Homo sapiens: one gene and its partners. Each later gene encodes a partner of the first gene's protein in a complex. Each region holds a gene or a part of one and is shown in the gene's direction. Other genes may lie near its edges. The genes, in order: CASP8, ZBP1 and MEFV.

Region 1 (5,800 bases):
CCCCCCCACCTCCCTCCCGGACGGGGCGGCTGGCCGGGCAGGGGGCTGACCCCCCCTCCCCCCTCCCGGACGGGGCGGCTGGCCGGGCGGGGGGCTGACCCCCCCACCTCCCTCCTGGGCGGGGCGGCTGGCCGGGCAGAGGGGCTCCTCACTTCCCAGTAGGGGCGGCCGGGCAGAGGCGCCCCTCACCTCCTGGACGGGGCGGCTGGCCAGGCGGGGGGCTGACCCCCCACCTCCCTCCCGGACTGGGCGGCTGGCCGGGCGGGGGGTTGAACCCCCACCTCCCTCCTGGACGGGGCGACTGGCCGGGCAGAGGGGCTCCTCACTTCCCAGTAGGGGCGGCCGGGCAGAGGCGCCCCTCACCTCCCGGACGGGGCGGCTGGCCAGGCGGGGGGCTGACCCCCCACCTCCCTCCCGGACTGGGCGGCTGGCCGGGCGGGGGGTTGACCCCCCCACCTCCCTCCTGGACGGGGCGACTGGCCGGGCAGAGGGGCTCCTCACTTCCCAGTAGGGGCGGCCGGGCAGAGGAGCCCCTCACCTCCCGGACGGGGCGGCTGGCCGGGCGGGGGGCTGACCCCCCCACCTCCCTCCCGGACGGGGCGGCTGGCCGGGCAGAGGGGTCCTCACTTCCCAGTAGGGGCGGCCGGGCAGAGGCGCCCCTCACCTCCCGGACGGGGCGGATGGCCGACCACCCCCCCCCGCCTCCCTCCCGGACGGGGCGGCTGGCCGGGCAGAGGGGCTCCTCACTTCCCAGTAGGGGCGGCCGGGCAGAGGAGCCCCTCACCTCCCGGACGGGGCGGCTGGCCGGGCGGGGGGCTGACCCCCCCCACCTCCCTCCCGGACGGGGTGGCTGCCGGGCGGAGACGCTCCTCACTTCCCAGACGGGGTGGTTGCCAGACGGAGGGGCTCCTCACTTCTCAGACGGGGCGGTTGCCAGGCAGAGGGTTTCCTCACTTCTCAGACGGAGCGGCCGGGCAGAGACACTCCTCACCTCCCAGACAGGGTTGCGGCCCAGCAGAGGCGCTCCTCACATCCCAGACAGGGCGGTGGGGCAGAGGTGCTCCCCACATCTCAGACGATGGGCGGCCGGGCAGAGACGCTCCTCACTTCCTAGATGGGATGGCGGCGGGGAAGAGGCGCTTCTCGCTTCCTAGATGGGATGGCGGCCGGGCAGAGACGCTCCTCACTTTCCACACTGGGCAGCCAGGCAGAGGGGCTCCTCATATCCCAGACGATGGGTGGCCAAGCAGAGACGCTCCTCACTTCCCAGACGGCGTGGCGGCCGGGCAGAGGCTGCAATCTCGGCTCTTTGGGAGGCCAAGGCAGGCGGCTGGGAGGTGGTTGTAGCAAGCCGAGATCACGCCACTGCACTCCAGCCTGGGCACCATTGAGCACTGAGTGAACGAGACTCCATCTGCAATCCCGGCACCTCGGGAGGCCGAGGCTGGCGGATCACTCGCGGTTAGGAGCTGGAGACCAGCCCGGCCAACACAGCGAAACCCCATCTCCACCAAAAAAAAAACGAAAACCAGTCAGGCGTGGCGGCGCGCGCCTGCAATCGCAGGCACTCGGCAGGCTGAGGCAGGAGAATCAGGCAGGGAGGTTGCAGTGAGCCGAGATGGCAGCAGTACCGTCCAGCTTTGGCTCGGCATGAGAGGGAGAGGGAGACGGGGAGAGGGAGAGGGAGAGGGAGACGGGGAGAGGGAGAGGGAGAGGGGTCAAATTCTTATCTATCAATGTTATGCCCACTGTGCTCTCCAGCTGTGGTCTGTGAATTACTGTGGTATAACGTGACTGTTCAAATTTCACTTTTCAGGGGCTTTGACCACGACCTTTGAAGAGCTTCATTTTGAGATCAAGCCCCACGATGACTGCACAGTAGAGCAAATCTATGAGATTTTGAAAATCTACCAACTCATGGACCACAGTAACATGGACTGCTTCATCTGCTGTATCCTCTCCCATGGAGACAAGGGCATCATCTATGGCACTGATGGACAGGAGGCCCCCATCTATGAGCTGACATCTCAGTTCACTGGTTTGAAGTGCCCTTCCCTTGCTGGAAAACCCAAAGTGTTTTTTATTCAGGCTTGTCAGGGGGATAACTACCAGAAAGGTATACCTGTTGAGACTGATTCAGAGGAGCAACCCTATTTAGAAATGGATTTATCATCACCTCAAACGAGATATATCCCGGATGAGGCTGACTTTCTGCTGGGGATGGCCACTGTGAATAACTGTGTTTCCTACCGAAACCCTGCAGAGGGAACCTGGTACATCCAGTCACTTTGCCAGAGCCTGAGAGAGCGATGTCCTCGGTAAGTTTTGCCTACTCAGCCCTCCTCACTGTTACACTACCTTCCCCCCCTACTCCATCACACTACTATCTACTCATATTCAGAGCCTATTAGAAAGTGCTATGTGATTTAGATCACATTAACAGGTCAGAGAACTGTCCAAGGGGAGTGGTTTCCGTTCAACTCTAAATGTCTAGCTGTAGATCACATAGCTGCATTTCCCAGGTCAGTTACAAAGTGGGAGAGTGGCAAGTGTTAACATCCTTAGTTTATAGATGGAAAAGCTGAGATGCTTTATTCCTTTATTCAGCACCTCAAAGGACAATCAGGGTATCACAGAGCAGGAAAGGATAGGAAAGTCATATACTCCAGCTCTCTGTCTTTAGGCCAAAACATGACTGAGCCAATTCAACTAGTTTTGGAAATCTTCCAAGAAGGCAGTAACCCAATTCAATGTTTAAACATCCTCCAACTCTGTCAAAAGTTCTATAATAGCAAACCATCCTCAAAACCTCTTGGTGCATTATGGGAGATAAATAGCAGGTTCCTTCTAGCCCTGTATTTCATGTTTTGAGTATATGAAGAGTGAGAATTTCCCGTAACTTAGATCATGAATCTAACTTAGATTTCGTAACTTAGATCATGAATCCTGCAAGGTTTCCGCGGCTAGCTACCAAGGTAGAAGAAGAGGTTGCCTAACAAAAATGCTAAGAGATCCTGGTGAGAAGAAGGTGGGAGTAGCTGCAGGAGACGTTATACTTTCACTTGCCTTAAGTTTAATTGCATCAAAGATGAATCCGCAGATGCGATGTCAATTCGAGGCAGAGAGTATTGGGGGGCATTGAAGCAATGGGGAGCCAAGTAACGTGGAGAAGAGTGAGAGACACACAGGTCAGGAGAGAAAGAAACCAACTCTAATACTGACACCGAGGTTTCTGATGGTCAAAAGAGTTCCTGAATAAACCAAAAGTAAGTTATTAAGCTCTGAGACAACCCATTTACCAGGAAAGCTGGGGTAGGTCTTGGTTTCGCACCTTATTGTTTCAAATGACTGATATTTTGAGAGAAAGAACTACAGAACTATCTCTGAGCACAGCAGAGGAGACAGTTCATCAGTTGCTTTCCCCCACAGACAGTCACAATATTATGTGATGTATTTCAGAGGCGATGATATTCTCACCATCCTGACTGAAGTGAACTATGAAGTAAGCAACAAGGATGACAAGAAAAACATGGGGAAACAGATGCCTCAGCCTACTTTCACACTAAGAAAAAAACTTGTCTTCCCTTCTGATTGATGGTGCTATTTTGTTTGTTTTGTTTTGTTTTGTTTTTTTGAGACAGAATCTCGCTCTGTCGCCCAGGCTGGAGTGCAGTGGCGTGATCTCGGCTCACCGCAAGCTCCGCCTCCCGGGTTCAGGCCATTCTCCTGCCTCAGCCTCCCGAGTAGCTGGGACTACAGGGGCCCGCCACCACACCTGGCTAATTTTTTAAAAATATTTTTAGTAGAGACAGGGTTTCACTGTGTTAGCCAGGGTGGTCTTGATCTCCTGACCTCGTGATCCACCCACCTCGGCCTCCCAAAGTGCTGGGATTACAGGCGTGAGCCACCGCGCCTGGCCGATGGTACTATTTAGATATAACACTATGTTTATTTACTAATTTTCTAGATTTTCTACTTTATTAATTGTTTTGCACTTTTTTATAAGAGCTAAAGTTAAATAGGATATTAACAACAATAACACTGTCTCCTTTCTCTTATGCTTAAGGCTTTGGGAATGTTTTTAGCTGGTGGCAATAAATACCAGACACGTACAAAATCCAGCTATGAATATAGAGGGCTTATGATTCAGATTGTTATCTATCAACTATAAGCCCACTGTTAATATTCTATTAACTTTAATTCTCTTTCAAAGCTAAATTCCACACTACCACATTAAAAAAATTAGAAAGTAGCCACGTATGGTGGCTCATGTCTATAATCCCAGCACTTTGGGAGGTTGAGGTGGGAGGATTGCTTGAACCCAAGAGGTCAAGGCTGCAGTGAGCCATGTTCACACCGCTGCACTCAAGCTTGGGTGACAGAACAAGACCCCGTCTCAAAAAAAATTTTTTTTTTAATAAAACAAAATTTGTTTGAAATCTTTTAAAAATTCAAATGATTTTTACAAGTTTTAAATAAGCTCTCCCCAAACTTGCTTTATGCCTTCTTATTGCTTTTATGATATATATATGCTTGGCTAACTATATTTGCTTTTTGCTAACAATGCTCTGGGGTCTTTTTATGCATTTGCATTTGCTCTTTCATCTCTGCTTGGATTATTTTAAATCATTAGGAATTAAGTTATCTTTAAAATTTAAGTATCTTTTTTCAAAAACATTTTTTAATAGAATAAAATATAATTTGATCTTATTGCTCCTTGGAGATTTTTTGTGTTTGGTTTTGGTTTCTGCCAATGACATCTCACAGGTGGAAAACATCTGGACTACAGACATGTTCTACTTGAGTCTCCCATGATCGGCACACACAGTTGTATTTTTAAAATTTGTTGTCAATGTTTAAAAATTAGGAGATATCACATAAAAACCAGAATAACTTCTTTTAAAAAATCATACTATCTGACAATATTGACCTCATGCTTTTGCATGGCAAAGGTCTGAGAAGCACCTTCTTCAGATGGGACAGTGCTCTGTGGGTCACTCTTCCCCATCCGCTGTGCCCCAGCCCTGCCCAAGCCCCTCTACTGAGGCTGCTGTTGGTTGCCACTTATCACTGTGCTTGGGCAATTGTTTTCCTTATGTCTAGCCCACTTCACTTATTTATGTTGCCTGCACTGTGGGTGTCTGAATTCTGGTGATGGTCCAGAGGAGGTGGTAAGAATCATCAGAAACCCTTCCTAAGTCATAGGTTAGGGAACATGATTGAGAGGTAGGGAAGTAGGGGGCATGGGTGTGAGAGAAAAATATTTTAGAGTAAAATCAACACATCATCTTTTTTTGCTACCTAAATGCCCCAGGGGACAAAGGTACACCTCCCAAATATAGTAAAAGTTCAATATGAAGAAGGCCTTCAAATCAGTTTCTTTCTAACGAAATACGTCAAGGTAGAAGAAAAATAGTACAAAACTCAGAGAAAGCTCAGCTCCCAGTATGGAGAGCATCATTTTTCAGTGAAGAGTCCGTGATAAGCTGTGAAATTCAGATGCGAATTCAAACATTTTCAGACATTCAGAGAGTCAGAGCAACCCAAGAACTAAACTCATTATATGCATTTTCTCAAGAAAACCCTCCCAGGAGTTTCCTGGGCCTACAGAAATGGTGTGCCAACCATCTTCAACAATGCAGAGCAACTTTTTGTTTATGATTCTTGTCCTTTCTTGCTACCATCTTGCACAGTGTCAGAATCATCCTTAGAAACAGTAATAGAGGCCAATCTCCCAGAACATCCTTCACAAATTTCTTCATTCTTAGAAATTATCTTTTGCCTGTAAAAAGAAAGGAAA
Region 2 (9,230 bases), on another chromosome or scaffold:
CCTCATGAATGGACAAATGCTATTTTTTGCCATTGTAGTTTGGTTATCTTGGGAGTTCAGCTCCTTTCCTCTCTGTCTCATATGCTTGTATGCCCTTCTGCCTTCCACCATGAGATAATACATCATGAAGTCCCTTGCCAGAGGCTGGTGTCATGCTCTTGGACTTCCCAGCCTCCAGAAGCATGAGCCAAATAAAATCCTATTGTTTATAAATTACCTAGGCTGTGATGTTCTGTTATAGCAGCAGAAAACAGACGAAGACAGAGACGTTTCTCCCATGCCCTGCAGGGCCCAGCATGTGGCCCGATAAAAGGAAGGCATGAGAAAGTATTTGGCAAATGATCAGGTGAGTGAATAGGATTGCTTTATTACCAGAGAGAGGGACAGCTGAGCATCACATGGTGATAACATGACTAGCTCCTGTTTATTGAGCACATACTATGTGCCCAGTGCTCTACTAGGACCTACAGGTACACAATCCCATTTAACCTGTGCAACAATCCCACAAGGTAAGTACTTCTATGACCCCCTTTACAAAGACATAAACTGAGCCTCAGACAGAGCAGTAACTTGCTCAAGGCACAGAGTTAAAAAGCTGGGTGCCAAGACCAGAACCCCAGGTCTCTTCAACTCCAATGGATACAGATAAACAATGGAGGCCCCATCAACAGCTCTGCCTGGAAGAGCAGAGAACAGGGCCAGGGCAGACTCCTCTAGGGACTGCAATGAAAACCTGCTTTCCTGGACACACCAGTTTTACTCAGTCTTCATTCCACCCCAGGAGGATGACTTTGTGACCTTGGGCAATCTCCATTCCCCTCTTCAGCCACCCCTGGTTCTCTGACCCTTGTCCCTGACCAAAGACATGTTATTATTCACATTCAGTACCTTTCCACCTCCTCCCCCTGCATGAATTCACAGAGGAAATCTGAAAATAAAATCCAGGCTGCCTGGTAGAAGGGAGACTTGGGTTTTGTCAACACAATGTGCAGTAAAAATATCTCTCTTTTAAAAGAGAGAGAGAAAAATTTAAAGACTCAAGATCAGTAACATGTAATTATCATCTGGTTTGGGCGGAGAGCTCTAATAGTTTCCAGAAAAACACAAGCCATGAACAGGGAGTGCGCCTTCCAAGGCAAAAGGAGATGAGGACTCCAGCAGGCAGTGGTGCCATCTTGGAAGTCTTGTGGCCTTTGAGGCCCTTTCCAGGCAGAGTAAGGAGGCACAGCAACTGCTGAATAAATGAACCCCGTGAATGGACACACCTGAAGGCACAGAGGAGGTATCTTTGCTCCTTTCTTGGGGACACCAGGGAACCTTGAAATGGCAGAGATAGCTAGGTCTCTGCCAATATCTACTGTCCCCCATTTTAAAGTCATAGAACCCCAATTTTAGCTGAGCACATGGTGACCCACAATACAGACCATCTTTCCAGGCCTCCCCTTACAGATAAGAGCCACAAGACTGACCAATGGGGTATTAGTGGAATGTGTGTGCAACTTGTAAGATGCGTGCTTAAAGGGAGATATCTGCCCTTGTTCCCTTTCCTACTCCCTGCTGGAAGGAATGCAGATGTAATGGCTGGAGCTTAGCAGCCATTCTAAAATGTAAGGCAAACTTGAGAATGAAGGCCACAAATGGCAGACCGACAATGTAGAAGGACCCCAGGTCACCACACTAAACCTGGAATGCCTACAACTCTTTCAAGAAAAAGACACAACTCTATTGTTTTAGCCACTGGTATTTAGGCTTAAAGATAATCCTTAGGGTCAAACTCAACTTAAACAGCTCTTAAATAGAGAAGAGAAATAAAGGCAATCTAAGTATTTAAAAGTAAGACTCCCACTCAGTGGGTGACAAGCACATAGCAGATTCCTGGCTTCATCTCCAGATGTGCCATGGAATGCAAAGAAAGGTGGAACCTACCCACGTGAAATGTTTTCTTCTTTTTGTCTATTGCTCTCTTTTGTTTGTTTGCTGTCTAAAGAGATACTGTGGAGATGCATCATGTTTTCTAACTTATGCAAATGTTGTGAGCACATACTAAGTGTCAAAAATGCTTTTTCTTAGTATCTCTGCTTTATAGTTAAAGAAACCGCGGCTCAGAGAGGTAGCGCCACACAGCTGGGAAGGAGAACCTGCCCTGGAGAAGAGACAAGACAGAATCCTTGTCCAGGGAACTTCCCGAGGCGCTTGGTCTCCACTGGCATGGTGGTCCCTGCTACAGACTCCTAAAAATGGCTCAGGCCCAGAGGGGCTCCATGTGCCTTCAGGATGTGGCCACGGGGACAGAAAGGGGTCATCCAAGCACAGTCTGGATGGAGACCAGCCGTGAGGGGCACCAGCCTCCTCCCTGCAGCAGAAGCCATCTTCCTAGAAGTAAGGCTGGCACCCAAGACCAAGCTAACATCCCTCAACCTGACCTGCAAGCCCACCAGGGACCTGGGGTCAAGGCCTGAGCTGCAGAGGCCAGGGAAGGAAGGGGAGAAGCTAGCATGGGCCCTGGAGATGGGGGGAGAGAGAGTTTCCCCACGGGGGAGTGGTGGGCTGTGTCAAGACCAACACTGGGAGGCCAGGCCGGAAGAGCACAAAGAACTGCCTGGAGGCTTCACAGAGAAACAGCTGGAATCTGACTCCTTCCAGGAAAGATGAGTGAAGAAACCACGATGAGTGACTGAAGAGACAGGAAGAATAAAGGATGATGCAGGACAAGGCAGTGGGAGGGGTGGGCACGTCTTGGAGCTGTGATTCATCAAGTCTGGAGTCCAACCATGGGTTGGGGTAGGAGCTCCTCCCTGCAGATCAGAGGGAACTTGAAGCCAAGGTGCGCCCAAGCCCAGGTTGGTGAGCGGCATCACCTGGTGGCCAGTTCGGGCGTGGCACCCCAGACACCCAAGGGACTCAGCCTTGCAGGGCTCAGCCGGAGCCCCTTCCGGAGGGCACCTTCATCATCTCCCTCAGCACCCCACCTACCCCCCCATTTAAAGAGCACTATTGTTATTTCATAGGGTGATACCTGCAGTTTTCGCTTTTACATAAAAGGAGAATAAAAGCATCCTGCAGTTTGCTGTTATTGACTTGCCCCAGACTTACTGGTTCTCCACCTGGAAGCAGGAAAAGTCACCCAGGAGCATAAAAAATCTCACCCTCGGGCCCCAGCCGCAGAGGTTGGAGTTGACTAGTCTGGGCCGGCCTGGGCATTGAGACTTTTTTTTTGCTTCAAACACTTAACATGCAGGCAGGGCGGAAGACCTGGGCTCCAGGTGCTCGCTCTGCAAAGACAGATAGCTTCAGGATAAACCTCCGGACCCCCTTTCCATTTGTATTTGCCGCTAAGCTGCTCCTTATGCATAAATGGGGTCTGCAAGGAGCACAGACGTCTCTAGCCCTCCCAGCCCTCTGCAGATGAGACACAGACCCCAAGTCCAGGGACTTCCAGGGCTGAGCTCTCAACCCCCTTGGCTGCCAAAAGCTGGGGGGCCTTGTACACAGCATTCACCTCTGTGGGCCTCAGTTCCTCCTTCTGTGATCTGGAAGAGAACAGTGGCTCTGAGTTTTTCTGAGGTCACTGGCCCTTTTGAGAATTATGTAAGCAACGGGTCCTCTCCCAGAAGCATTCCTGTGAGGTGACCACGGTGCCCGTGACTACGGATGGCTCTGGGGCTCTAGCCCGACAGCTGGGCTGTATCAGCCCCTTAGGTCCTCACCTCGACCCCATGCGCTAGGTCCTTTGATTAAGTCCTTTTACACATGGGGAAACTGAGGCACAGAGGGGTTAAATAATTTGTCCGAGGTCACACAGCCGGTAAATGGCGGAGCCAGGTTTGGACCCAAGCATGCTGACCCAGGCTTGCATTCCGAACCACTCGGCTGCTGACCCCAGGCATCTGACTCTGGAATTAATAAGCAAGTTTTATGATGAGGCGGGGAACTCCACGCCATCTGTGCACTAAGGGTGATTCACCAGTGACTTCTGGGTGTTATAGATCAGGAAACACAATTGGGGAATGGACAGGACAAGCTCTGTCATGGACTCTGTGTGGCCTTGGACAAGTGATCTTGCCTTTCTAGCCTCAGTTTCCCCCCTGAGAAGAAGACAGAACTGGCCCCTACCCTGTAGATGGGTTGGAGGAGCACTTGAGATTGGAAAACGCATAATAGGTGTTCATTAAAGAGGCTCACATGGATACACACAAGAACAATCTCAGGGCCTTCACGCACCTAAATGTTCTGCCCCTAGTGTGGGCAAGGGAAACAAACTGGAAGAAGACAAGAAAAGCCACTGAGAGCTGGGGACGGTGCCTCTGTAGCACCTGTGAGTCCCCGAGGAGGAAGTACTACAGGAACCAGCGGGGCCGGGCGTGGGGGCTTGCGGCTGGAATCCCAGCACTGTGGGAGGCCAAGGCAGGCAGATCGCTTGAGCCCAGGAGTTTGAGACCAGCCTGGGCAACACGATGAAACCCCATCTCTACAGAAAATACAAAAATTAGCCGGGCATGGTGGTCTAGGCCTGTGGTCCCAGCTACTAGGGAGGCTGAGAGGTGGGAGGATCGCTGGAGTCCGGAAGGTCGAGGCTGCCGTGAGCCGTGATCACGCCACTGCACTCCAGCCTGGATGACAGAAACCCTGTCTCAAAAACAAACAAAAACACAGAAACCAGATAACCAGCCCCAGCCCCTCACATCATCAGAGTGATGCCACGCCCTGGCATCCCCCTCCACGTGGTGCATGCTCTTTTTTTTATTTTTATTTTCTTCAGTTCTCTGATGCTGATTCAGAAAATAAAAATGTAGAGGTCCAGGTGGGCTGTGCCTGGAACGGGGAAGGTGAGGGAAGTCCTCTGTCTCAAAGGCCTCTTCGGAGGACGCTCTGGTCTTGCCAAGTTTACAGCTCCTCCCTGTCAACATCAAGTCAGGTCCCCAACTCTGTCTTGCTCATCCACCTGGCTTCCACTTTTTTTTTCTTTCAAAAGACGAACAGAGAAGTTTCATTTTCTTTTTCTCCTGAAACCGAATCTGGCCGGCCTGGCTAGGCATCTATTTCCGGGCTGTAAGCAGCTGACACCTGCCCAGTGGAAGCTGGCATCCCTCCCCTTGTGGGTTCAGAGCTGCAAGAAGCACCAGGCTCGGCCACTTCAGAAGCCCCAGCCTCGACCTAGCCCACCCTCTCAGGGCCACAGTGCAGAAGCCTGCACACCTGCCAAGTCTCTCCGACTCCTTGCAGCTGCTGTCAGCATGGCCCAGGCTCCTGCTGACCCGGGCAGAGAAGGTACAGTACTTCTTCCTTCCAAGGACCAGCGGTAGCTCCCGGGGTGAGATTTCTACTTCTCTTTCCTCCTGTTTCGCTTGGTCCAGATCATGATGACAATAGCAGTATCCTAAAGAATAGTAGACCAGCTGGGCGTGGTGGCTCACGCCTGTAATCCCAGCACTTTGGGAGGCGAGGTAGGTGGACTGTTTAAGCTCAGGAGTTTGACACTAGCCTGGCCAACATGGCGAAACCCCATCTCTACTAAAATTACAAAAATTAACCGGGCATGGTGGCGCATGCCTGTGATCCCAGCTACTCGGGATGCTGAGGCTGGAGAATCGCTTGAACCCGGGAGGTGGAAGTTGTAGTGAGCTGAGATGTCGCCATTGCACTCCAGACTGGGTGACAGAGTGAGATTCCATCTCAGAAAAAAAAAAAAAAAATAGAAAGGGACAGCATAGCCATCCCCCTTTGACAGCTGACTGTGCCCCAGGCACCTCGAAACATGCTTTCCAAGCATTTCCTGATGGCCTGCAGGGACAAGTGCCATGTCATTCCCATTTTATAGATAACTGAGGCCCTGAGAGGTGAAATGACACTCTCAGGGTAACACAGCTGGCGAACGCTGGTGTTAGCGTCTGAACACCCATGTCACAGTCATATCGAGAACAAAGCGGTTTGCTTTGATGAGATACATGTGTGCCTTTGTTCCCCCTTGTTGCATCCTTTCCTCAACTAACATTTCATTCATTTTATTCCTGGAAGAGTTGCAATGAAAGCCAATAGTGTATCGAGTAATTGCTGTTCTCTAGGGTCTCCACTAAGCGCTGTGGACTGTAGGTGAAGTGTGGTTTTGCGGTTTGGGGGATGTGTTTGTTTTGTTTTTAATCCTCACCACAATCTTTGAAGTAGTTATTACTGTCTCCATTTCACAGAAGAGGAACCTGAAGCCGGAGGGGAGGTCACACAGCTAGTAGTTGGCAGGGCTAGGAGCTCAAACCCAGGAAATCAGCCATCAGAATTTTAAAAAACCAACACAGAGTGTGCCCCGGGAGGGCTAATGTCAGGGTGTGGCCCAGGAGCCGGGCTGACCGCGGAGGTCCTGTGGAGCTTCCTCTTCGGGGACTCACGGGTGCTGACGCAGGTTCCGGACTCAGCCCTCGCTGGCTTTTCTTGTCTTCCTCCCCAGTTGATTTTCCTTTTGTGACCAAATTGTTGCCTACACCTGCTCCATTTTACAATTTCCCATTTTCAGACACAGTAGCCTGGGACTCAGCAGTCGAGGCCAGCCCAGGGCCAGTGCTTGTCCTGCATCCACACCTCTGACCCCCATCTCCTCTGGGGTGTGTGGAGCCGAGGCAGTGGCTCCCTAAGGTCAGCCTTCCAGAATCAAAACTGCGGCCAGGCGCAGTGGCTCACGCCTGCAATCCCAGCACTTTGGGAGGCTGAGTTGCGGGGATCACCCAAGGTCAGGAGTTTGACACCAGCCTGGCCAAAAAGGGAAACCCTGTCTCTACTAAAAATACAAAAATCAGCCGGGTGTAGTGGTGCGTGCCTGTAATCTCAGCTACTTGAGAGACTGAGGCAAGAGAATTGCTTGAACCCAGGAGGTGGAGGTTGCAGTGAGCCGAGATCACACCACTGCAGCCGCAGACCAGGCAACAAGAACGAAATTCCATCTCAAAACCAAAAAACAAAAAACTCTGCGAGACAAGGTGAAGCCAGGTGTGAAGTCAGGTGCATGGAGGTGCTGCTGGCTGCCGGTGGGGGAGTTTGGTGGGCGCAGGAGTGGGAATTCCCAGGTCTTCTAATTGGTCTTCACCTGCACACGGCAAGCCGGTCAGCGTTGTAACCATCAGGGTGAGGCACAAACTGATTCTTCCCTCCCCTACAAGTGCTGTGACCAAGGAACCCTGGGCAAACCTGGAGAATCCTCTGAACAGGAAAGAAAGCCCAGATGACAAAGGACTGAGTCACTGTCCTGGAAGGGGAACTCAGGTCTTTCCAAGAAGGGCTCTCCCATGCACTGCCCTCAGGTTCCTTGAAGCAGAAGCTTCCTGGTGACAGGTGGGGCCCCCGCCCACAGTGGCTCTCCCAGGCTGCTGGCTGCCAGGTGCTGCCCGTAACCTGCGTCTGCCCCAGCCTCATCTCTGGGCAGAGCAGCTGGCTTTGATCTTTTAATCATTGTGTGAGCTAATGGTTTTGATTTTTAAGAGCTGCCTCAGGAGGAGCAGGGGCCATTTGGAGAATTCCTCCTTGAACCTCTTGGGGTCCTGCTTAGTCCTCATTAAACTCAGGCCAGGAAACAGCAGCACATTGCCAACTGGCCAAGGAGAAGCTACCCGGGCCCTGCCCAGGGTCTATTGGGTAAACGTCTGTCCCTAGAGACAGACACTCACTCATTCAGTCCTTTTTTTTTTTTTTTCCAGAGATGGGGTCTTGTCCAGGCTGGAGTGCAGTGGTGCATTCATAGCTCACTGCAACTGCTACCTCCTAGATTCAAGCGATCCTCCCACTTTTAGCCTCTTAAGCAGCTGGGACTACAGGCATATGCCATCGTACCTACCTGATTTTTCTCTTTTTTTGTAGAGATGGGGGTCTCACTATGTTGCCCAGGCTGGTCTAGAACTCCTGGCCTCTAGGGGTCCTCCCATCTCAGCCTTCTGATGTGCTAGGATTACAAGTGTGAGCCACCACTCCTGGCCCCATTCATTCATTCATTCATTCACTCAGTCACTCATACATTCAACTGCCATTTCCTGAGCACCTACTGTGTGCCCAGCACTGTGCTAGATGCTGAAGGTACAACAGTGAGCCATGCAAGCACAGCAGGGGACACTAGGGGAAGTTCTGCAGGGGACCCACACACAAGCAGCGTCCCAGCCACTCTGGGACACAGAGACAGGCTTTCCCTAGGAAGTGGCATCTGAGGAGGCCTGGAGGTTGAGTAGACATCATACAGGTTGGGGCGTGAGGGAAGGGTGCTCCTGGCAGCAGGAACAGTGTGCACAAAGGGGCTGGGGAGAGTGGGGCTGAAGGGAGCACAGACAGGCCAGCACTTGGAGGGAAGTTGGGGGCAGGTGCAGGCCAAGCTGGGTGGTTGGCAGAGCCAGATCTGGAGGGTACCTGACTGGAGCTGGCGGGCCAACGGGGAGCCTATCACTGTACCTAGGAGATGGTGAAGAGGAAGGGGGTGGTGCTGGCAGAAAAGAGAGGAGTGGGGGGATTCCAGAGAATCCAGGAATGGCATTTCCAGGGCTCCACGACTGGGCACTGGGGGAAAGGTCTGTTTCTGATGTCTGGTCGGTCTCTGGCTTGGATGGATAGTGGCGCCATGGATGGATGGTGAGCTGAGAGGAGGGCACTCCCGGGGAGGATGGCGATGGGCATCAGGTAAACCCAGGCAGGCGTCCCAGGCAGGACTTGCCTTTGCGCTCCCAGGTCCCCCTGCCTCCCTCTGGCTCCGTCCTTCTGCCCTCTACTCCCCTCTGCCCTGAGGACACCTGAGAGCTGAGGAACCCCACTGCCCTCTGGAACCCACACCCGGGGAGGGCACAGGCGAGGTGGCACCTCCCCTGGCCACCAGGCTGCGCAGCCAAGGCCGTTTCTGATCAGCCTGCATGCCTCCCTCTGGGCAGATGCAGCTGCCCTACTGCTCTTAGGGGGCATCTGCTGGGGTCCTTGCCCTTTCCTCTGCCCTGGACCCCTCTCAAAAAGGGGCCTACGTGCCTCCTGGAGCCTCCAGCCTGGGCTCAACTGTGGGGACCTGGGAGACTCAGTTCCCCTCTCTGTCCCCCGCTCGCTCCCCCAGGCCACCTTGAACAAAGAATCCTGCAGGTGCTGACAGAGGCTGGCTCCCCGGTGAAACTTGCCCAGCTGGTGAAGGAATGCCAAGCACCCAAGAGGGAGCTCAACCAAGTCCTCTACCGAATGAAAAAGGAGTTGAAAGTCTCCCTCACATCCCCTGCCACCTGGTGCTT
Region 3 (9,597 bases), on another chromosome or scaffold:
CAAGTCCTTGCTGTGTCCTGGGAGCCCTGCTACTTGATAGGGGACTCCAGCTCCCTCTCTAACCCCTCCATCCACTCCTCCTCCGTGCCTCTGCTCCAGCCACCACTCTTCCTCAAACACTAAGCACAAAGTTACCCCTTTTGCACTCTGTAAATAGGCAAAGACTGCTCATCCTCAAAATGAATACCTGGCTTACTCCTCTTCCTTTGGGTCTCTGTTCAAGCACAAAAGCCTTCTTCAAGTGCCCTATTAAAATATGAAACCAGGGGGCACGGTGGCTCATGCCTGTAATCACAGCACTTTGGGAGGCCAAGGCGGTTGGATCACTTGAGGTCAGTTGTTTGAGACTGGCCTGGCCAACATGGTGAAACCCCGTCTTTACTAAAAATACAAAAATTAGCCTGGCATGGTGGTGTGAGCCTGTAATCCCAACTACTTGGGAGGCTGAGGCAGGAGAATTGCTTGAACCCGGGAGGCAGAAGTTGCAGTGAGCCAAGATAGCACCACTGCACTCCAGCCTGGGTGACAGAGTGAGACTCTGTCTCTAAATAAATAAATAAAAATAAAAAAATATGAAACCAATCCCCTGCACTCACTAACCCTATTATTCTGCTGTTTTTTCCCCCAACTTATCACTCCCTGATACATTGTGTATTTGTTTGTTTATATCAATTCACACTTTCCTATAAGAATGTGGGCTCTTGGCTGGGCGCAGTGGCTCATGCCTGTAATCCCAGCACTTTGGGAGGCCGAGGTGGGCAGATCACAAGGTCAGGAGATCGAGACCATCCTGGCTAACACGGTGAAACCCCGTCTCTACTAAAAATACAAAAATTAGCCGGGCGTGGTGGCAGGCGCCTGTAGTTCCAGCTACTCGGGAGGCTGAGGCAGGAGGATGGCGTGAACCCGGGAGGTGGAGCTTGCAGTGAGCTGAGATAGCACCACTGCACTCCAGCCTGGGCAATATAGCTAGACTCCGTCAAAAAAAAAAAAATGCGGGATCTTCTGAGCCAGGCGCAGCAGCTCACGCCTGTAATCCCAGCACTTTGGGAGGCCGAGGTGGGTAAATCACTTGAGGCCGGGAGTTTAAGACCAGCCTGGCCAACATGGTGAAACCCCGTCTCTACTAAAAATACAAAAATTAGCCAGGCGTGGTTGTCGGTACCTATAATCCCAACTACTTGGGACGCTGAGGCAGGAGGATCGCTCAAACACTGGAGGCAGAGGTTGCAGTGGCGAGATTGCGCTACTGCCCTCCAGCCTGGGCGACTGAGTGAAATTCCATCTCGAAAAAAAAAAAAGAATGTGGCCTCTTCTGAAGGGCATTTATATCAGAAAAAAAAGAATGTGAGCACTGCAAGAAGTTTTTTTCTGTTCAGTTCTGTATCAGTAGTACCTAGAATAGCATCTGGCATACAGCAGGTGCTCCAAGAGTAAATGAATGGCCCTGTGGTGCCTCTTCCTAGCTAGACATGTGTTCAGTATGTCAATTAACCCATCTAAACAGGGTGGGCAATTGTCCCAATTTCCCCGGACTGTGGTCGTTCCCAGAACTAGGCTTTCAGTGCTAAGACTGGGCAAATTGGGTTTTGCTCCTAGACAAAATGTGTTGGTCACCCTACCTGTAAGCCTACATTTCATCATCTATGAAAAAATAGTTGGCTGGTCACGGTGGCGCACGCCTGTAATCCCAGAACTTTGGGAGGCTGAGGCGGGCGAATCACAAGGTCAGGAGTTCAAGACCAGCCTGGCCAACATGGTGAAACCCCGTCTCTACTAAAAATACAAAAAATTAGCTGGGTGTAATGGCGGGCACCTGTAATGCCAGCTACTCGGGAGGCAGAGGCAGGAGAATCGCTTGAACCCGGGAGGCGGAGGTTGCAGTGGGCCATGATCTTGCCACTGCACTCCAGCCCAGGTGATAAGAGTGAGACTCTGTCTCAAAATAAATCAAGTAAATAAATAAGTAAATACTATATACCTCCTTTATCATGATGGTTTAGGGGCACGGGACTGATACTCCCTTAGAAGTTAAGCTAATTGTGAAAGACTTTTTTTTTTTTTAAATACGGAATCTTGCTCTGTTGCCCAACCTGGAGTGCAGTGATGCAATCTCGACTCACTGAAACCTCCACCTCCCAGGTTCAAGCAGTTCTACCTCAGCCTCCGGAGTACCTGGGATTACAGGCGCGGGCCACCTCACCTGGCTAATTTTTGTATTTTCATTAGAGACGAGGTTTTGCCGTGTTGGCCAGGCTGGTCTGGAACTCCTGACCTCAAGTGATCCACCTGTCTCGGCCTTCCAAAGTGTTGAAATTACAGGCGTGCGCCACCACACCTGGTCTGAAAGACTTTTTAAAACTATCTTTTTTGCTTATTACGAAAGTAATACAATCTTCATTTTTTTAAATCCCAAAATGTGCAGAAGTAAATGCCATAGAAAGTGAAACCCCTGGTGACCAGGAGTGGAGTGAAGGTCGTGGTGTCTGAGCCGCACATTTCCCAGGAGTAATAGCCGAGAGTAGACCCTTTGCAGCAGCTTTGTTGGGTTTAGATTTGCCATGTCACCCCAAATAAGGTCACACATCCAATGGCAGGGGCACACAAGACAGCCCATGACCATTCCACTTTGATTATTAAACACTTAAATGACGTTAGAAGGGCAATAATTCTATTTTCACTGTGAGAAATTACTGGAACCCCTCCAAACAAAAGCTTTGTGAGCCTGCCTTGCCCTAGAAAGTCCAAAGTGGCATCAAAACACTGCCTTCCAGAAGTCCTGCCTCAGAGCAGCCTCTGTTGCAAAACGTGTCACCGCAATTGCAAAATATCCTGCTTTAGACCAGAAAGTATCATTCCCTGCCCAATTCTGTCATGGGGTTTTGGTATCAGCTCCGAGGAGTTTTCTGACCAGACGAGATGGGATCACACAGCACCCACAGCGTCACTGCACAGTCTCATCCTTTCTCCATCTGGTAGTGGGAGACTGCCTGGGAGGTGCTGGGTTGCCACCGTCCAGAGTCAGGGACGGGTGCTGGCCCCAGTGATACCCCATTCAACACCCTTCTTCTGGCCCAGCCTAAAAATTCCAAAAATCTGCTGTCTGCACCATCAATGTGCATTTCATCCACTTTTTTTTTTTTTTTTTTTTTTTTTTTTTGAGACAGGGTGTCTTGCTGTGTCACCCAGGCTGGAGAGCAGTGGTGCAATCACAGCTCATTGCAGCCTGAACCTAGGCTCAAGCAATCTTCCCACCTCAGCCTCCTGAGTAGCAGCAGGGACCACCAGTGTGTGCCACCACACCCAGCTAATATTTTTTCTATTTTTTGTAGAGGCAGGGTCTCCTTATGTTGCCCAGGCTAATCTCAAACTCTTGGGCTTAAGTAATCCTCCTGTCTCAGCCTCCCAAGGGCTGGGATTGCAGGTGTGAGCCACTACACCCAGCCCAATTCACCCTTTTTTTAGGGAAGATGTTGGGTTTGGGCTCAGAAAGATCTAGCAAACTGCATGTTTGTTGTCAGCTATGAAAACAATGCAAAAACACCAAATACTCTGTGAAATAGGAAACAGGTGGACCAGCTGGACAGTAAGTTAAATTCAACCAACCAGAACTCATCAAAGCCTTGAATCCCAGGCTGGGCACACACAGAGGAGCTCACACCCAGAGCTGGGTGTTCAGCTAGGCGTCGCAATGTTGTGACTGACCTGTGGAAGTGACCCATCCTGGACCTCAGTGGTCAGCTGGAAATGTGACATCCATGGGTAGTCATTAACAGTAAAATCACAAATTATTGTCATGCAGGAGACGATGTTGTGAAGTGGTTTGACGTTTGGATCTTGGCTCTAGGCAAGTCACTAAGCTACAGATTCTTGGCTGCACAGGGGGATGATAAACGCAGCCCTGCAGGGTGCTGCAGAGATTCTAGGAGGAAGTGTTTATAAAGCTAGTGGTGGCTGGTGCCGAGGAAGTGCTGGTGAAGGGTAAATTGCATTATTAACAAAACTTCTGGCCGGGCGCAGTGGCTCACACCTGTAATCCCAGCACTTTGGGAGGCCAAAGCGAGTGGATCGCTTGAGATCAGGAGTTCAAGACCAGCCTGCGCAACATAGTGAGACCCTGTCTCTATAAAAAATACAAAAATTGGCCAGATGTGGTGGAATGCACCTGTAGTCTCAGCTACTTGGGAGGCTGAGGTTGGAGGGTTGCTCAAGCCCAGGAGGCAGAAGTTGCAGTGAGCCAAGATCCCACTACTGCACTCCAGCCTGAGTGACTGAGCAAGACCCTATCTAAAAATAAAAAAATTAGGGTATGCAACGGTCAGAAGTAGGTAAGTGAGGAGTCAGTTCACCCTACATGTAATTTTTCATTTATTTATTTTTTTTGAGACAAAGTCCCGCTCTGTCGCCCAAGCTGGAGTACAATGGCGCAACCTCGGCTCACTGCAACATCTGCCTCCCATGTTCAAGTGATTCTCCTGCCTCAGCCTCCTGAGTAGCTGGGAGTACAGGTGCGTGCCACCATGCCTGGCTAATTTTTGTATTTTTAGTAGAGATGGGGTTTTACTGTGTTGGCCAGGCTGGTCTTGTACTCCCAACCTGAGGTGATCCACCCACCTCGGCCTCCCAAAGTGCTGGGATTACAGGCGTTAGCCACTGTGCCCTGCCCCCAACATGTAACTTCTGTTAGCTTCAAAGCCACCTCTGGGGCCCTGCACCACATATGAGCTGAAGGACACCCGTGCCTTTTCACCCGTGTAGCTCCAGCATCTTGGCACACTGTCTAGAATGTTCAATGAATGTGCACGGAAGAGCATTCTGGCTCCAGGGAGCGAGGACTGAGTCAGCTCTGGGAACAGATGAGTCAGGCTGGTGGTCCAGGCATTGCTTTTCAAGTCCTTCATGTGGCTGGAAGAACCAGTCAACTGGAACCGGATCAACAGGGGTGATGGCATGGCAAGAGTTATCTCCTGGCAGTGCCCTTCTGGCCTCACTTGCCTTCTTGGGCCAGGAAAGGCAAAGCTCACAGGACTGTATTCAGTGCCCACCCCTTCCCCCGTCCTGTGCCATTGGCTCTGGAAGGTCCCTGAAACCCCGAGTCTGGAGGAGAACAGTTGACCAGCAGGGCGGGCCCTCAGCATAGTCCTCTCTGTTCCCACTCACCCGCTCTGCCAGCCCCAGATCCTGGCAGGAAGGAAGATTGGAGGGGGTGTCTGGAATCCAATCCCAGACCTTCCCTTGCAGACTTGCCCATCTGTCTGTGGTCTAGTGTGGAGGCGAGGTCCAGGGTTTGGGAGGGGTGTGGGGGCACATGTCTGCCAAGGCATGGAGCCCTCCCAGCTGGAAAATCCTCTGAACCTGTAAGAAGAGAACACAGCCGGCATGGACACACCCTTACCCTTAGTCTCAGTTCCCACCAAGACACAGAGCATTTCCTGTGCCTTTTCCGCTATTTCACAACCTGCCTTTTCTTGCTCACCAAGGACAGAGGCTTCTTTTCCTACCAGAAGCCAGACAGCTGGCTCGAGCCTCTCCTGCTCAGCACCATGGCTAAGACCCCTAGTGACCATCTGCTGTCCACCCTGGAGGAGCTGGTGCCCTATGACTTCGAGAAGTTCAAGTTCAAGCTGCAGAACACCAGTGTGCAGAAGGAGCACTCCAGGATCCCCCGGAGCCAGATCCAGAGAGCCAGGCCGGTGAAGATGGCCACTCTGCTGGTCACCTACTATGGGGAAGAGTACGCCGTGCAGCTCACCCTGCAGGTCCTGCGGGCCATCAACCAGCGCCTGCTGGCCGAGGAGCTCCACAGGGCAGCCATTCAGGGTAAGCGGGCCCAGGCCTCCTCCTCATCCAGTGCTGAGTGCTGGCTGCTTTGTGGGAAAGGGGACCAGGAGCTCAGAGCAGCTCACTCTGACCTGGGGATTGGGAGTCTCAGGTCTACCAAAATCCAGATGACTTTAGTTCAGGAACGTCCCTTTCTTCACTCTGGCCTTTGGAACTGGGTTAGTAAACTTCCTTCAGGCTCCTAATGGGTTTTTTAAGAAGCAGGTCAGGGTCACGAAAGGCAGGAGCTGGAACACCTGTTCTTTGAGACTTCTTCACTACATTTATGATTAATACTCATGTCAGACAAACATCTCTAGGTTAGCAAAAAGGGATTGCTATGCAATCATATGAACGGGGTTGGTATAGAATCTTCTCAGTGCTGTTCACCATGTTGGCCAGGCTGGTCTCGAACTCCTGACCTCAAGTGATCCTCCCGCCTCAGCCTCCCAAAGTGCTGGGATTTCAGACATAGGCCACCGTGCCCGGCTTATTTTTATTTTTAAAGCGTATAATCTGGGTTTTGCTGACCTGTGTAAGATCTTATTTGAAACAGTTGTCCTGCTTAAAACGTTTGAAAAGTACTATTTGAGAAATATAGGCTAGGCATGGTGGCTCACACTTATAAATAATCTCAGCACTTTGGGAGGCTAAGGTGGGTGGATTGCTAGAGCTCAGGAGTTTGAGACCAGCTTGGGCAACATGGTGAAACCCTGTCTCTACCAAAAATACAAAAAAATGAGCCAGGCGTGGTAGCACACACCTGTATTTTCAGCTATTGAAAAAACAGAAAACAGGCTGAGGTGAGAGGATTGCTTGAGCCTGGGAGGCAGAGGTTGCAGTGAGCTGAGATCACATCAGGGCAACAGAGCAAGATCCTGTCTCAAAAAATAAAATAAGAGAGAGAGAAATACATAGCAACATCAAGCATGTTCTTACTGAATGGTAATTGACTGCCATTGTCTAGTCTAGGAAGTCCTGAACTTTTGTTTTTGAGATGGAGTCTTGCTCTGTCACTCAGGCTGGAGTGCAGTGGCCCGATCTCAGCTCACTGCAACCTCCACATCCCGGGCTCAAGCGATTCTCATGCCTCAGCCTCCCGAGTAGCTGGGACTACAGGTGCGCACCACCGCGTCTGGCTGAGTTTCTTATTTTTAGTAGGAACGGGGTTTTGCCATGTTGGCCAGGCTGGTCTCGAACTCCTGACCTCAAATGATCCTCCCACCTTGGCCTCTGGAGAAGCTGGGATTACAGGCATGCGCCACCACGCTCAGCTTATTTTTGTATTTTTAGTAGAGACGGGGTTTCACCCTGTTGGTCTTGAACTCCTGATCTCAGGTGATCCTCCCGCCTCGGCCTCCCAGAGTGCCGGGAATACAGGCATGAGCCACCGCGCCCGGCCCGTTGTTTTCCTCAATTTCTAAACTTTAATATCCAAGGGGATTCTCTCTCCTCTGCCCTGAATCTTGGGCCCTAAACGTGGGACAGCTTCATCATTTTGCATCTGGTTGTCCTTCCAGAATATTCCACACAAGAAAACGGCACAGATGATTCCGCAGCGTCCAGCTCCCTGGGGGAGAACAAGCCCAGGAGCCTGAAGACTCCAGACCACCCCGAGGGGAACGAGGGGAACGGCCCTCGGCCGTACGGGGGCGGAGCTGCCAGCCTGCGGTGCAGCCAGCCCGAGGCCGGGAGGGGGCTGTCGAGGAAGCCCCTGAGCAAACGCAGAGAGAAGGCCTCGGAGGGCCTGGACGCGCAGGGCAAGCCTCGGACCCGGAGCCCGGCCCTGCCGGGCGGGAGAAGCCCCGGCCCCTGCAGGGCGCTAGAGGGGGGCCAGGCCGAGGTCCGGCTGCGCAGAAACGCCAGCTCCGCGGGGAGGCTGCAGGGGCTGGCGGGGGGCGCCCCGGGGCAGAAGGAGTGCAGGCCCTTCGAAGTGTACCTGCCCTCGGGAAAGATGCGACCTAGAAGCCTTGAGGTCACCATTTCTACAGGGGAGAAGGCGCCCGCAAATCCAGAAATTCTCCTGACTCTAGAGGAAAAGACAGCTGCGAATCTGGACTCGGCAACAGAACCCCGGGCAAGGCCCACTCCGGATGGAGGGGCATCTGCGGACCTGAAGGAAGGCCCTGGAAATCCAGAACATTCGGTCACCGGTAAATTGTGTTCTTTCCTACTTTATATCGGCTGCAGAGAAAGAATGGCTGGCCGGGCACGATAGCTCATGCCTGTAATCCCAGCGCTTTGGGAGGCCAGGGCGGGAGGATTGCTGGAGGCCAAGACTTTGAGACCAGCCTGGTGAATGTAGTGAGACCCCCGCCATCTCTATAAACGAAATTAAAAAAATAAAAACCCAAAGGTTGGGCAGGGCGTGGTAGCTCTCGCCTGTAATCCCAGAGCTTTGAGAGGCCTGCACGGGAGGATCTCTTGACCCCAGGAGTTCCATACTAGCCTAGGCAACACAGTGAGACCCCATCTCTACAAAATACAATAGTGGCACGCGCCTGTAGTCCCAGCTGCTCGGGTTCACTTGAGCAGACGGAGTTCCAGGCTACAGTGAGCTGAGATCATGCCACTGCACACCAGCCTGAGCAACGTAGCCAGACTCCACTTCTACAAAACTAAAAAAAAAATTAGCTGGGTATGGTGGCACACGCCTGTAATTCTAGCCACTCAGGAAGCTGAGGCAGGAGGATTGCTTGAGCCAGGGAGTTCCAGGCTGCAGTGAGCTGAGGATGTGCCACTGCACTCCGGCCTGGGCAACAGAGCAAGACCCTGTCTCTTAAACATTTTGGGGGGAAAAAAAAAGAAAGAAAGAATGTCCGATTGAAAAAGGCAATCAGGTGTTATCAGTGGCCAAAGAATGGAGAAGGGGAGCTCACCTCTGCAGGCGTCTGCTTGCCAGGGATGGGAGGCAGGGCGATTTTAGAGTCCAGGGAGGGGAAGGGAGATAGGTAAGCAGGCCCAGGGCAGGGTTCCATATGTGCAGGCGCTGTCCCCAGCATGCTTCTTCCTACATCGCATGGACACAAAACCCTGGCCATCTTCTTTTAGGGGAGGGACCTTTAGCCTTATAACAATGTGTAAATGATCTTAAGGTAACTGGAAGTCACCTCTTCCAGTTTGCACTGGTTTTGCTCTGATCTTAACTTCCTCTGGTTTTTGGCAAGGGATCAGGAGGCTCCAGGCCATCTGGATTTTTTTAAGCAGCTGTCCCTATAGGTAAAGAGACTAAAAAAAAACTGTAAAAGAAAAATGCCACCAGTTTAGAGGGTACCGAGGCTATCCAGGTGACAATTCCATGCTCGTGGTGGGGGCAGCATTCAGAAACACACTTTCCTTTTTTTTTTTTTTTTTTTTTTTTGAGACAGAGTCTCAGTCTGTCTCCCATGCTGGAGTGCAGTAGTGTGAGCACAGTTTACTGCAGCCTCAACCTCCTAGGCTCAAGCGATCCTCCCACCTCAGCCTTCCAAGTAGCTGAGACTATAGGTGCTCACCACCACACCTGGTTAATTTTTTTTTTTTTTTTTGTATTTTTTGTAGTTACGAGGACTGTCTATGTTGCCCAGGCTGGTTTTGAACTCTTGGGCTCAAGCGATCCCCCGCCTTAGCCTCTAAAAGTGCTAGGATTTCAGGTGTGAGTCACTACACCCAGCCTATGGAACACACTTTCCAATGCATTGTTGGCTGGAGAGGAGAAATCACAGCACTCAAGGAGGAGAAATAGAATTGGGGGTCCAGGCCGGGTGCGGTGGCTCATACCTGTAATCCCAGCACTTT

What was found.
Region 2: CASP8 (region 1) and ZBP1 share a complex: the UniProt entries of both Homo sapiens proteins name them as parts of the AIM2 PANoptosome complex.
Region 3: CASP8 (region 1) and MEFV share a complex: the UniProt entries of both Homo sapiens proteins name them as parts of the AIM2 PANoptosome complex.

What each region holds. Positions count from the first base shown.
Region 1 is NC_000002.12:201,283,000-201,288,799, forward strand, and holds the end of CASP8 (caspase-8 isoform 2 precursor), read left to right. Parts: intron 1-1,816; coding exon 1,817-2,318; intron 2,319-3,459; coding exon 3,460-3,595; 3' UTR 3,596-4,710; downstream 4,711-5,800. Other genes in the region: FLACC1 (flagellum-associated coiled-coil domain-containing protein 1), read right to left, coding at 5,656-5,782. UniProt on the Homo sapiens protein: Thiol protease that plays a key role in programmed cell death by acting as a molecular switch for apoptosis, necroptosis and pyroptosis, and is required to prevent tissue damage during embryonic development and adulthood.
Region 2 is NC_000020.11:57,616,300-57,625,529, reverse strand, and holds the start of ZBP1 (Z-DNA-binding protein 1), read left to right. Parts: upstream 1-5,103; 5' UTR 5,104-5,234; coding exon 5,235-5,268; intron 5,269-9,061; coding exon 9,062-9,230.
Region 3 is NC_000016.10:3,252,534-3,262,130, reverse strand, and holds the start of MEFV (pyrin), read left to right. Parts: upstream 1-5,497; 5' UTR 5,498-5,543; coding exon 5,544-5,820; intron 5,821-7,340; coding exon 7,341-7,973; intron 7,974-9,597. UniProt on the Homo sapiens protein: Involved in the regulation of innate immunity and the inflammatory response in response to IFNG/IFN-gamma.